Linked DNA regions of Homo sapiens. The protein of the gene in region 2 interacts with the protein of the main gene of each other region in a pairwise test. Each region holds a gene or a part of one and is shown on either strand. Other genes may lie near its edges.

Region 1 (7,187 bases), on a different chromosome or scaffold from region 2:
GTTACTGCTGGATATTTTCCAGATCCACTTTTCCACCCTCCTCTATCATGTTTTCTGCTCCAATAGGCTGACCTGTATAGACTTTACCAACAGGTCACTGTGCCCCTGGCTTCCGGTTGGGTTTGGCCAATGGGGAATCCCAGCAAGAAATTAAGAGAACAGGGTCAGGATATTCATTCCTCCAGCTTCATTCTCTCAAGGTCACCTGAAACTAGCTATGTCCCTTCGGCTGAAAGTCACCATTCCTCTCAAGGCAGCCAACTCCATACTTTTCAAGTAACTATTCCCTCTTTTATGGGATGTTAACCGTTCAGCTATAGGTTACCAAACTATTTCTTGTCACACCACTATACCTAAATCTTTATAATAGTATCTTTATAAAATAAACTCAGATTATCCTGTCAAGTGTGCCATCTGTTCCTGTCTGGACTCTGACTATTAACTGTGATGGTGAAGATGATGTAAGGTTGTAATAGAGTATTGGAAAGTAAGGAGAGAAAAGTGACTAATACTTAAATAACAATTGCTAACATTTTAATCTCTATGTTCCAAGAACTTTTCTAACCTCTTCGTAGAATATTAACTCATTTAATCACAACTACCTTCTGTGGTAAGCAGAGATTTTTGTCTGGTTCATTTCCAAATCCAAACACCCAGCATAGTTGCTGGCACATGGTAAGCACTCAAATATTGATTTAAAATACACACAACAAGCAGGTTTAATTAGAAAGAGATTACTTTTTTAGTATAGTGTAGCACTTCTCCTAATTACACTTTAGAAAACTATACAAAGATCAGGGAATTGTTGACTCTCCAGAGATCACAGAAACACTAAATGAGACCATATGTGAATGATTTTCTTGTGTAGCCTACAGTGAGTCGTATTCCTTTATTTTCTGAAGAGGACTTGGGTGCCAGTTTTTTAGGTTTAATATTCAAAGTCAAAGTTGCAGCGGGGGGCGATGGCTCACATCTATAATCCCAGCACTTTGGGAGGCCGAGGCGGGCGGATCACCTGAGGTCGGAGTTAGAGACCAGCCTGGCCAACATGGCGAAACCCCGTTTCTACTAAAAAATACAAAAATTAGCTGGGTGTGGTGGCGTGTGCCTGTAATCCCAGCTACTCAGGAGGCTGAGACAGGAGAATCACTTGAACCTGGGAGGAGGAGGTTGCAGTGTGCCGAGATAGCACCACTGCACTCCTCCAGCCTGGGCAACAGAGCCAGACTCTGTCTCAAGAAAAAAAAAAAAAAATTAGTCGGGTGTCAGGGCAGGCACCTGTAATCCCAGCTACTCGGGAGGCTGAGGCAGGAGAATCTCTTGAACCCGGGAGGAGGAGGTTGCAGTGAGCTGAGATGGGACCACTGCACTCCAGCCTGGGCGACAAAGCGAGACTCTGTCTCAAAAAAAAAAAAAAAAAAAAGGCAAAGTTGCTCCATACCAAGACCAGATTTTTAAAAAGTCAAAGTTGCAAATTTTTAAATATTATGCACTTGCAGCCTAGGAGCTGATTTAATAAGGCAGAGCACCTTTAAGTATCAGTTATGAGTTAAAATAAAGGGAAGGGGGCCAAAAAAAATATGGTTGTGAGTATAAAATGCAAAAATAAAGGTAAAGGTGAGTATTTTGTCAGCCTGTAAAAAAAGCCTCTTTAGTTTTCAAAGTACTTAATTTTTAAAGTACATCCTACATTAGAACCTAAGTCAGCCAGATAACCAAGAATACACATTTACACAGAAATGAAGCACAGCAAAGGTGTGAAAATTAGGGCAGGAAGCATAAAACATGAATCAAAGAATGCAGAAATACAACAGATATAAGCTACAATTAAATATCTCACCGGATGCACACACAGTTTTATATGGAATAATCAAAGCAGCAGTGATACCCATCTTATAAATAAAAATCTAAAAGCCAGAGAAATAACAAGGTTAGAGGATTAATATGAAACAAAATGAGAACTCCAAAGATTTTCTGAAAGCAGAATTACTGTTTTTTCTTCATATTATGTTGCCACTCCAAAGCAAGGGGAAAACTCGCATGAGTAAGAATCTAGAAACCTGAGAAGTTTCGAGAAGAACAGACTCAAACTGGAGTGAAAATAGGCAAAAAGAGTGAGGCATAAGGCTACGACTGGGAGCAAAATGCCAGATGCAAGTCTTGGACACGGAGGGGAGACGAATAAAGCCTTCTTAAGCGGAAGGTGGAGAAACACTGGGGTTGGATTTGGTGGGAGGAAGACAAAACGGAAAAGCACGGCCCAAGAAGCAACGGCAAAGGGAGAACTTAAACAAGATTAGATTGATGCCACAATCGAAGAGTATAAGACCTACAAATCAGATTCTGCCGGGTGGGGAAAGGGCCAGTTCGCGACCGATCAGGTGCGACTAGTTTCCCAAAAGCGGCAAAGATGTAGCTTCGCAGCCCCACCCCACGACAGCAGCTCCTCCCCAAGGAGGACCTCACGAGGTCAACTGCCGGGCTCAGGTTCTCCCCCGGAGCCTAGGTTCCACCCCGCCCCGGCCGTGCGGCACAGAACTGCCTCTCTGGGCCCCTCACCGAACGCTGCAGCTCCCCAAGCCAAAAAGAGGCGCGCTCCTTTCCGCTGGGATCTGGGTCGTGGTAAAGCGCCTGCACTGCCTGGTACACGAGCTGCAATGTCGGCTTTGCTCCTTCCATGGTGGTGGCGGTAGTGGCGGTAGCGACGGCTCTGATTCTTCTCCGGAGGATTCCTCGGTTGCTCCGCCTTCGCGCTTCCTCACTGTCTGGGCCACGGCCGCTCCCTGACTGGCGCCATCTCCTCCTCTTTGGCCGTTACCAGGGCAGAAGGCTCTCCGTGGAAGTTGCCCCCTCGGAAACAGCTATTAGGTCGTATTCAGGTTCCTGGCCTTTTTTCCGGTTTTTCCACTTGATTCTAGACTCTTGAGTCCACAGATTCTGGCGCTCCCGTCTTCAGTCGCTGACTTGCCCTCAGAAGCCTATCTTGGGAGGCCACACACCAGTGTACCTAAGGTTCGTTTACCCGGACCGGAAGCGACAGCACCGATACCTTTGGCACACTTCCGCCTGGTACACTACAAACGGCCTCCTTCCCGGCACGCCTCCTCTTGTCTCCCCGCCCCCTCCCGGAAGTAACCCTGCCGGGCCAGGAGCCGGGAAGAAGAGCCGGTGTTCTCTCTGTTCCTCGCTAGCAGCTTGGGACATTAGCGCCGAGATGTGCCCCATATCTGAGCTGCCTTCAGCTCCTTGGAAACGGATCCAGGTTTTTCCTACCCCTTCCGACTGCCCCATCCCTCTCCAGAGAATCCTTTTCTGCCCTGGTGATCAAGGCGCGTCAATTCAACTCTCCCTAGAGTGGCCACAGTACTGGAGATCCAAAGATGACTTAAGACATGGTACCTACGCTGGCTCTAGTGGAGGAGACAGACACGTAGTCAACTGAACTATTTTACAAACCTGAAATATGTGCCACATTGAGATAAATCCAAAATGCCTAGAATCTTTGTTCAGCTCCCCTTTACTTAGTTCTTAAGCCCAAAAGAGGTCTTCATTCTGCTTACAGCTCCTGGTGCTCTAACTCCAGAGCATTTTGCATACATCTTTAGGGTTATTCTCACATTGAACTGTATTTTTGTGAATGCCTTTCTGTCCGAATCCAATACCAGTGGTCTAACAATTCACAAAAGAAAACAGAAATATTGGAAACTGTACTATGGAGAAATTAGGGACAAAAGGTAACAGTATATTGATATTAACATTGCTGCTAGTCCTTTGCACTAGTAAATAACTGCTATTTGATAAATGATCACAATGTGTAAAACACTGTAGTTACAAGATCTCATTTAATCCGCCTAACAACCTTGCCAAGTATTAATAAAACCCGTTTTAGGCGCTGACACTGACCTACAGCGCCTCAGCTCCAGCGCCATGGCGCCCTCCAGGAAGTTCTTCGTGGGGAGGAACTGGAAGATGAACGGGCGGAAGAAATGTCTGGGGGAGCTCATCGGCACTCAGAACGCGGCCACTGTGCCTGCCGACACCAAGGTGATTTGTGCTCTCGCCACTGCGTATAACGAGTTGGCCCGGCAGAAGCTAGCTCCCAAGATTGCTGTGGCTCCGCAGAACTGCTACAAAGTGACTAATGGGGCCTTTACTGGGGAGATCAGCCCTGGCATGGTCAAAGACTTAGGAGTCACGTGGGTGGTGTGGTCCTGGGGCACTCAGAAGGCGTGTCTTTGGGGAGTCAGATGAGCTGATTGGGCAGAAAAGTGGCCCATGCTCTGGCAGAGAGACTCGGAGTAATCGCCTGCATTGGGGAGAAGCTAGATGAAAGGGAAGCTGGCATCACTGAGAAGGTTGTTTTTGAGCAGACAAAGGTCATCGCAGATAATGTGAAGGACTGGAGCAAGGTCATCTTGGCCTATGATCCCGTGTGGGCCACTGGTACTGGCAAGACTGCAACACCCCAACAGGCCCAGGAGGTACACAAGAAGCTCCGAGGATGGCTTAAGTCCAACATCTCTGATGCAGTGGCTCAGAGCACTGGTATCATTTATGGAGGCTCTGTGACCAAGGCAACCTGCAAGGAGCTGGCCAGCCAGCCTGACGTGGCTGCCTTCCTCATGAGTGGTGTTTCCCTCAAGCCCGAATTCGTAGACATCATCAATGCCAAACAATGAGCCCCATCCGTCTTCCCTACCCTTCCTGCCAACCCAGGAACTAAGCAGCCCAGAAGCTGAGTGACTGCCCCTCCCCTGCACATGCTTCTGATGGTGTCATCTGCACCCTATTGTGGCCTCATCCAAACTGTATCTTCCTTTACTATGTATACCTTCACCGTGTAATGGTCGGGACCAGACCAATCCCTTCTCCACTTACTGTAATTGTTGGAACTAAATGTCACCAATGTGGCTTCTCCTTGGCTGAGAGGTGAAAGGGATGGAATTTGCTCCTGGGTCCCCTAGGCCCTAGTGAGGGGAGGAGAGAGAACCCATCCTCTCCCTTCTTACACTGTGAGGCCAAGCAGAAGCCAGGGGTGCTGCCCTCTCCCACGGTGCCAACGCCTTTGTGTGTTGTGTATGTGAGCCATCCCACATGTGAGGGAAATAAACCCCTGGCACTTAAAAAACAAACAAAAAAACGCATTTTAAAGAAAGAAAAATAGTAATGTAATTTGCCCAAGGATACAGTTCTTAAAGTTAGGATTTGAATCCAGATCAGTGTTGCTCCAAAACCTGTTAAATCACACAATCCCTATCATCTTGTGCATTCGTTTGCTTCTGAATTGTTAGTCAAGGAATTTTTAACTGCCAACAACATGATGAAAACAATGTTACTGCACAGAGTTGATACAATTTTAGACAGAAAAAAGAAACTTGATATTTTGGTTACCTAATCCATTCATTCATTAAAAAAAAATTTAGTGCTGGGCTTGGTGGCTCACAACTGTGTAATCCCGGCATTTTGGGAGGCCGAGGCAAGAGGATTACCTTTGAGGCCAGGAGTTCAAGACCATCCTGGGTAATGAAATGAGACTCCATCTCTACAAAAAAAAATGCAAAAAAATTAGCAGGGCATGGTGGTGGGTGCTTCTAATCCCAGCTACTCAGGAGGCTGAGGTGGGAGTATTGCTTTAGCCCAGGAGGTGGGGGTTGCAGTGAGCAGAGATTGTGCCACTGCACTCCAGCCTGGGAAACAGTGAGACCATATCTCAAAACAAATTTTTTTGTGTGTATCAAAGGACACTATCAAGAAAGTGAAGTAACAGTCCACAACATGGAAGGGAATGTGCAAATAACATATCTGATAACTGATTAGTATCCAGAGTATATAAAGAACTCTTACAATTCAACAATGAAAAGACAACTCAGTTTTTGGGTTTGTTTTGTGTGTGTGTGTGTGTGTGTGTGTGTTTTGTTTTTTTGTTTTGAGTTGGAGTCTTGCTCTGTTGCCCAGGCTAGAGTACAATGGCACAATCTCAGCTCACTGAAACCTCCACCTCCTGGGTTCAAGCGATTCTTGTACCTCATCCTCCCACGTAGTTGGGATTACAGGTGCCCACAACCATGCCTGGCTGATTTTTGTATTTTTAGTAGAAACAGGGCTTCACCACGTTGGCCAGGTTGGTCTCGAACTCCTGACCTCAAGTGATCCACCCGCCTCAGCCTTTCAAAGTGCTGGAATTACAGGCGTAAGCCACCATGTCTGGCCTCAGATAATTCAGTTTTTTAAATGGGCAGTGAATTTGAATAGACATTTCTTCCAAGAAGATATACAAATGCACATGAAAAGATGCTCATCATTAGCCCTCAGGGAAATACAAATCAAAACTGCAATGAGATACAACTTCACACCCACTAGAAAAACTAAAATTTAAAAAATGATAAATGCTGGTGAGAATGTGGACAAATCAGAACTCTCATGCACTATTCATGGGATTGTATCATGGTGCGGCCATGTTGAAAAAGTTTGGCAGCTCTTCAAAAAAATGTTAAACATAGAATTATCATATGAACCAGCAGTTCTACACTTAGGTATATACTCAAGAGAAATGATAACGTGTGTGCATACAAGCACTTGCACGTGCATATTCATAGCAGCATTATTCATAATAGACGGCAGAAACAGCCCCAATATCCGTCATTTGATGCATGGATAAACAAAGTGTGCTATATCCATACAATGAAAGGTTATTTGACCCTTAAAAGGAATGAAGTACAGATAGATGCTACAATATAGATAAACTTGAAAAATTATGCTAAGTGAAAGTGGCCAGACACAAAAGGCACATTAATTACGCGATTCTATTTACATAAAATGTTCAGAGTAGGCAAAATTCTAAATATAGACAGTAGATTGGTCATTTCCAGGGTTGGTTTTTTGTTTTGGGTTTTGTTTTTTTTTGTATTGATGGAAATAAATGCTCTGGAATTATTGACGATGTTCAGAAAAACCTCATGAATATATTAAAAACCACTGGCATATGTTTTTTATATGTTTTAAAAGGATGAGTTTTATGGCAATGTGAACTATATTTCAATAAAACTTATTTTTAAAAGTTCTATGGTTAGGAATTATTAAAACACCACATGGATATTTAGCTAACAGTTGGAGAAAAAAGAAAAAAAAATAGAGGTGATACCTAACCCAGAGTAGAGAGATTGGTAACACCATCTGGAGAAATTATG
Region 2 (7,022 bases):
TTCTCAGCAACTTTTCAGCACTGCCACCAGGGATGGATCACACGCAAGCAGCCAGAATGTTTCTGGATTTGTGCTAAGAGCCTTATTCCAGTGAAGCAATTACAGCTATGATATAATATTCTTTCATGGTGCCAAGCAGCCCTATCTAATAGCAAAATAGCTGAGCAGGAATGAGGTCAGAAACTGGGGAAGTTAAATTTGTCTCTTCTACCCACTTTCTTATTGATCCCCAGAGGAAATGAATGAGAAAGTGGAAGTGAAAACAAAGTAACAGGAACAACTTTAGAGGGCAGTTGTCAGATTGCTGGAGTAGTTTTTTTTTTACAGATTCCAACACAGAATTGAGAAATATCAGGACCACCATTTCACAACTGTGTTAAATCCCAGGGCCTGCATAAAGAAACAGGAACACATCAGAGCCACAGCACAGTCAACTGGTCACAGAGACTCATTTATTCCTCTTCTTTTATTTTTATTTTTTTGAGATAGGGTCTTACTCCATCGCCCAGGCTGGAGTGCAATGGCACAATCTCGGCTCACTGCAAGCTCTGCCTCCCGGGTTCAAGTAATTCTCCTGCCTCAGCCTCCTGATTAGCTGGGATTACAGGTGTGCGCCACCACGCCCAGCTAATCTTTGTATTTTTAGTAGAGATGGGGTTTCACCATGTTGGTGAGGCTGGTCTCAAACTCCTGACCTCAAGTGATCCGCCCGCCTCAGCCTCCCAAAGTGCTGGGATTACAAGTGTGAAAGACGGCACCCGGCCGAGACTCATTTATTTCAATTATGATATGGTCACTATAACCTCAAGTTATTCAAACTTAGCTTGATTATTTTTGAAAAAAAAAAAGAGTAGGAACACTTTACCCGACCCCTTCATCTTGTTCTTAACTTTCTCTCTCTCTCCACACACACACACACCTCCCAGTATTTCCTCCATCACTCAAAATTCACTAACTTTATACGAAGAAACAACAAGGATATTTAAGGGCAATAAAATATTGGTGGCTGGGGCCTACCAGAGATATCTGAACACAAACCCCCATGTTGACTTCCAGTTAAACACAGATGAACGTGTATGTACATCACCTCTCCTAAAACCCAAATAAAAAAGGCAGTAAGGGAATTTTTTAAGGCATGAACCCACAGGATAAACAACAGAAAAGAAGATTGTAGCAGGAAAGAGAAATGAGAGCGAGGAGCGTGAACACTGTATCAGAATAAAGCTGTGCAAAGCCAAGGCAGGCAGTCTTGTGTTTGCAGAAACAAAGAACCTAGACATGAACGGACTGGCCTGCAGGACCCCTGAGATATGCCTGGAGGCATCCAGTGCAGAGCAAGGCAGGGTTGAGGCTGGGGATCCCACAGGGAAGTTTCATTACAAGTCTGAAAGCAGTGTTGTATGAAAGCAAAGAAGGTGAGCACTCCCCTTGACAAGGATAGAAGAGTCCTCAGGCCTGACAACAAGTTCGACAGCAGAGCACTGCAGCTAGACCCCTGCCCAGCTTCTTCCCCAACCCCTCACTGTTAGCTAAACCCCCCTTAAAGGATGGGGCTGGACTGAAGGTAAGCTCAGGACCTCTCCAGTCAGAGAAGGCTCTGCAGAGAAAGAGGTGGGCTGAGACTTCCAGGATGTATGTATCTATGGAAGAAAGGGTGGGAAGTGGAAGAGGAAGCAGGCAGTAGGGGACGAGAAGGAAGGGGCATCTGTGTTTCAGACCCTCCAAGTCTTTAAGTTGCAATATGACTTCCAAGTTAGATCCATACAGGTAAAGAGAGAAAGCCTGATGAGATAGATTCTCAGCAGATGAGGGCAGGTCCTATAAACCTGTATTCTTGTTCACTGCACAGTCACACTTACCTCGCAAGTTTGCTGAGGCCAAGGACTTGCTTGTTAGGAAGATAACCAATATGGACCTTCAGAGAAGAGACGGAAATCATTAGCTGAGTGAAAATACAGTGCCTTCTTTGTGACAAAATAAGGAAATATAGAAAGAATATAGTACACTTTTATGTAATTTATCACGACAATGTATTACCTTGAAAACATCTGGAACTGTTAAGACTTAGAAAATGAAACATTTATATATGTATTTTTAAAATTACATAAATGCAGTAAAAGCAAAATATATAAGTATGAGTCTATTAATCAAATAACAAACTTGTACAGTTGTCCGTTGGTAAATGCGGGAGATTGCTTCCAGGACCCCTGTGTATACCCAAATCCTGCATACTCAAGTCCCGCAGTCGGCCCTGCAGAACCTGCATATATGAAAAGTTGCCCCTCCATCTATACAGGTTTTGTATCCTGCAAATACTGTAGAATTTTTGATCAGTGTTTGCTTGAAAAAGAGCCATGTCTAAGTGGACCCATGCAGTTCAAATTCATGTTGTTCAAGAGTCAATTGCATGGCCCTGACACTTACCTGTGAAGTTGAACTCTTGACACAAATCTGAAAGTTTCTTCTTTATGGAGGAGAAACATTCTCAAGGAAAGGCAAATGATCTCATAGCAACACTAAAATGTATACAGGAAAGCCTCCTTTAAATGGCAAAAACTGTAAGCATAAGTATTGCCATTCCACACATCACAGCAGCCTTAAGATCCCACCTCACAGCCTTAAGATCCCACCGCAAAGCCCTGCAGCACAGAAGGTCTCCACACCCTTTTGTGCTTGGCTTCCTGGTTTCTAAGCTGCTAGAGAGTGCACCATCTTCCTTTTTTTTTTTTTTTTTTTTGAGATGGAGTCTCACTCTGTCGCCCAGGCTGGAGTACAGTGGCCCAGTCTTGGCTCACTGCAAGCTCCGCCTCCAAGGTTCAAGCAATTCCCCTGCCTTAGCCTCCTGAGTAGCCGGGACTACAGGCGCCTGCCACCACACCCAGCTAATTTTTGTATTTTTAGTAGAGATGGTGTTTCACCGTGTTAGCCAGGATGGTTTCGATCTCCTGACCTTGTGATCTGCCCGCCTCGGCCTCCCAAAGAGTTGGGATTACAGGCGTGAGCCACCACGCCCGGCCCCATCTTCCTAACTGGAGAAAAAGGGCACTGCTACCACCATGGCTTGGCAAGAACCTGCACCCTAAGAACTAAGTTTTAAAGGACCCAATATACAGCCAGGCCATTTCTGTTATCTTAAATGGCACCAATTAATATCAAATATAAAAGTTACTCTTTTGGGGCCAAATACTACATACGAAAAACATTAGTTCTCTGAAAAGATTAATAGAGTAAATGGTCACTTGTAGGCAATTAATTAACCGAATATAAAATTAGAGACTCAACGGCATCATGGTTTGCTAACACTGTTTTCATTGTTCACTTACTATTTACATAATTGATCTAGTAGTACTTAGTGATTTTTTCCCCCATCCATTGGCACTATGCTTTAGGAATTTGAGAAGTCCACCTCATTGCCTTCCTGGTTGGCAGGAGGAAAAAGTAAAATAGCACCTGAACATTGAGGATTTCAAAGAAAAATTAGAGAGTTAAAACTTTCCCATGAACCAAGGTCTTCTATGCTGTCTGAAATTTTTACATTTCCATGCAGACACGGAATTTGTTCATTGTTTATACTATTTTTGGTCTTAAGATCCTAGGTAATTTAAATGTCCATTTCACAAAATCACTAGATAGGCCAGGAGTGGTGGCTCACACCTGTAATTCCAACATTTTGGGTGGATTGCCTGAGGTCAGGAGTTCAAGACCAGCCTGGCCAACATGGTGAGACCCCATCTCTACTAAAAATACAAAAATTAGCCAGGCGTGGTGGCGGGTGCCTGTAATCCCAGCTATTCGAGAGGCTGAAGCAGAAGAATTGCTTGAACCTGGGAGGCGGAGGTTGCAGTGAGCCGAGATCGCACCACTGCACTCCAGCCTAGGCAACAAGAGCGAAACTGTCTCAAAAAAAAAAAAAAAATCACTAAATAATATATTTTTAAAACAAAGGTAGCAAAAACACAAACACTGAGGAAGTAATAGCAGAAAGTAACAGGATAAAATGGTGACAGGCTGAGTACAGAATCAGTGCCTTGGATCTGGCTGCAGCCAAGCCACTAACTCTCTCTATCCTCTTGAACAAGTCACAGGCTTTCTGTGCCTAATTTGCTCACCAATAGATTCCCTTTCAAAGATTCCTTCATTATCAATTGCAGGATTTCCAGATACGATATGGCTTCTGATGTGATGTATCTGGGTTTTCTGATTGCTTTCTCTTCTTTTCTTTTTAGAGACAAGGTCTTGTTCTGTCACCCAGGTTGGGGTACAGTGGCATGATCATAGTTCACTGTAACCTGAAACTCCTGAGCTCAAGCAATCTTCCTGCCTCAGACTCCCAAAAAGTAGCTAGGACTACAGGTATGCACCCACCATGCCCAATTAATTTTAAAAAAAAATTTATTTTGTGGTAGAGACAGTCTCACTTGCTGGTCTTGAACTATTGACCTGAAGCTATCCTCCCACCTTGACTTCCCAAGTCGCTGGGATTACAGGCATGAGCCACCTCACTCGGCCCTGATGTGATATAATATGAAGTCTTCAGCACCCTTATGAAGCACTACTCTTTTTTTTTTTTTTTTTTTTTTTGGACACGGATTCACTCTCTTGCCAGGCTGGAGTGCAGTGGTGTGATCTCGGCTCACTGCAGCCTCGACCTCCTGGGTTCAAGCGATTCTCCAACCTCACCCTCCCGAGTAGCTGAGACCACAGGTGCATGCCACCATGCTAGCTAATTTTTGCCTGTTTTTTTGTTTGTCTGTTTGGTTGATTGGTTTTCGTTTTTTTTTTTTTTGGTTGGTTTTTTTTTTTTTGGTAGAGACAGGGTTTTACCATGTTGCCTAGGTTGGTCTCAAACTCCTGAGCTCAAAGCGATACATCCACCACCTGCCTTGGCCTCCCAAAGTGTTGAGATTACTGACGTAAGCCACCGTGCCCAGCCCTTACGAACTACTTTTATCAGAAATGTTTAGCCCTAGTCTTATGAAACTTTAGATCTAATCTAGTTTATAGGAAATCCAGAGGCTGAAGGAAACAAATCTGGAAGGTGGGGCACTCTGCTGAACAGCTGGCCTATTTTCTTTTCAGTAGAGAATGTTATGGGTGGGAGCACTATTTTAGAACAAAAGGGACTTAACAGGTATAACCAAATGCAATGTAAATACAAATGTGTGACTCTCCCTTGGATTCCTGTTTAAACAAACCAAGAGTAAACATTTGAGACAATTGGAGAAATTTAAATATGAATTCGTTATTAGACACTATTTAAGAATTATTGTTAATTTTGTGATAGTGCTGCTGTGGATAAGTAAGAAAATATTTTAGGGCCAGGTGCGGTGGCTCACGCCTGTAATCCCAGCACTTTGGGAGGCCAAGGCGGGCGGATCACGAGGTCAGGAGATCAAGACCATCCTGGCTAACACCGTGAAACCCCTTCTCTACTAAAAATACAACAACAAAATTAGCCAGCATGGTGGCAGGCGCCTGTAGTCCCAGCTACTCAGGAGGCTGAGGTGAGAGAATGGCGTGAACCCGGGAGGTGGAGCTTGCAGTGAGCCGAGATCACACCACTGCAATCTAGCCTGGGCGACAGAGCGAGACTCCGTCTCAAAAAAAAAAAAAAAAAAAAAAAAAAGCATGCACATGTACTCCAAAAAAGTATTGACAGCAGTATTGTTTGTAATAGCAAAAAAAAAAAAAAAAAAAAAAGAGGCAACAATACAAAGGTCCACCAAGAGCAGAATAGATAAATTGTGGTATATTTGTACAATGGAATAAGATATAACAATGAAAATAAACTACAATGACAGGCAATGACATCAATGAATCCGACTATGTAGAACAAGAGAGGCCAGACACAAAGAGTACATATCGTAGAATCTTTCCACTTACATATAGTTGAAAAACAAGAAAACGAATCCATAGGGTTATAAGTTGATAAACTGATACAAAGGATGGATTAGGGATTAAGAAGAGAAAAGAAATGAGGTGAGCTTCCAGGATGCTACACATATTGTAGTTGTGGGGGTTTCGTTGTTGTTTGTTTGTTTGTTTGTTTGACAGGGTCTGGCAGTCTGGCTCTGTTGCCCAGGCTAGGATATAGTGGCGCAATCTCGGCTCACTGCAACCCCTGCCTCTTGGACTCAAGCCATCCTCCCATCTCAGCCTCCCGAGTAGCTGGCAGTACAGGCATGCACCACCATGCCCAGGTAATTTTTATTTTTATCTTGGTAGAGATGGGGTCTCACCATGTTGCCCAGGCTGGTCTTGAACTCCTGGGTTCAAGCAATCCACCTACCTCAGCCTTCCAAAGTGCTGGGATTACAGGCATGAACCACCGTGCCAGCCTATTCTAGTTCTTGATCTCTGAAGTGGTAAGGAACACCCTTAAGTTTTATGCATTTTCTATCTATATATTATTTCCATAAAAAAGTGAAAAGATACAATACTTTAACAAAGACAAAAATGAAGCAAATGTTAACACTTTAACTTTAGTTGATGGGTATATAAGTATTCATAACACTGCTTCTTGTAAGTCTTCTGTTTAAAGATTATTAATAAAGAGTCAAAATTAAATAAAATTATGATGGGGGTAGGGAAATGGGACAACTCTTTGTTCTATACCACATGTTCTCAAAGGTATGTTAAGTAGTCATTCCTAGACAACATCTAATAACTAACTCAGATTTAAATTCCTCCAATTGTCTCAAATGTTTTACTTTTGGTTTGTTTAAACAGGAATCCAATGGAGAGTCACACATTTGTATTTACACTGCATTTGGTTATACCTCTTAAGTCCCTTTTGTCCTAAAATAGTGCTCCCACCCATAATATTCTCTATTGAAAAGAGAATAGGCCAGCTGTTCAGCAGAGTGCCCCACCTTCTGGATTTGTTCCATTCAGCCTCTGGATTTCCTGTAAACTAGATTAGATCTAAAGTTTCATAAGACTAGGACTAAACATTTCTGACAAAAGAAATTCACAGAGGTGCTGAGGAATCTAATGCATTAGATTCACTTTTCCTAATATAG

Evidence for each region.
Region 1: the proteins of GCH1 (region 2) and TNPO3 interact in binary tests that used the Homo sapiens proteins (3 or more experiments, as listed by UniProt).

Annotation. Positions count from the first base shown.
Region 1 is NC_000007.14:129,052,092-129,059,278, forward strand, and holds the start of TNPO3 (transportin-3), read right to left. Parts: upstream 3,021-7,187; 5' UTR 2,680-3,020; coding exon 2,560-2,679; intron 1-2,559. UniProt on the Homo sapiens protein: Importin, which transports target proteins into the nucleus. Specifically mediates the nuclear import of splicing factor serine/arginine (SR) proteins, such as RBM4, SFRS1 and SFRS2, by recognizing phosphorylated SR domains.
Region 2 is NC_000014.9:54,857,822-54,864,843, forward strand, and holds part of GCH1 (GTP cyclohydrolase 1), read right to left. Parts: intron 1,916-7,022; coding exon 1,860-1,915; intron 1-1,859. UniProt on the Homo sapiens protein: Positively regulates nitric oxide synthesis in umbilical vein endothelial cells (HUVECs). May be involved in dopamine synthesis. May modify pain sensitivity and persistence.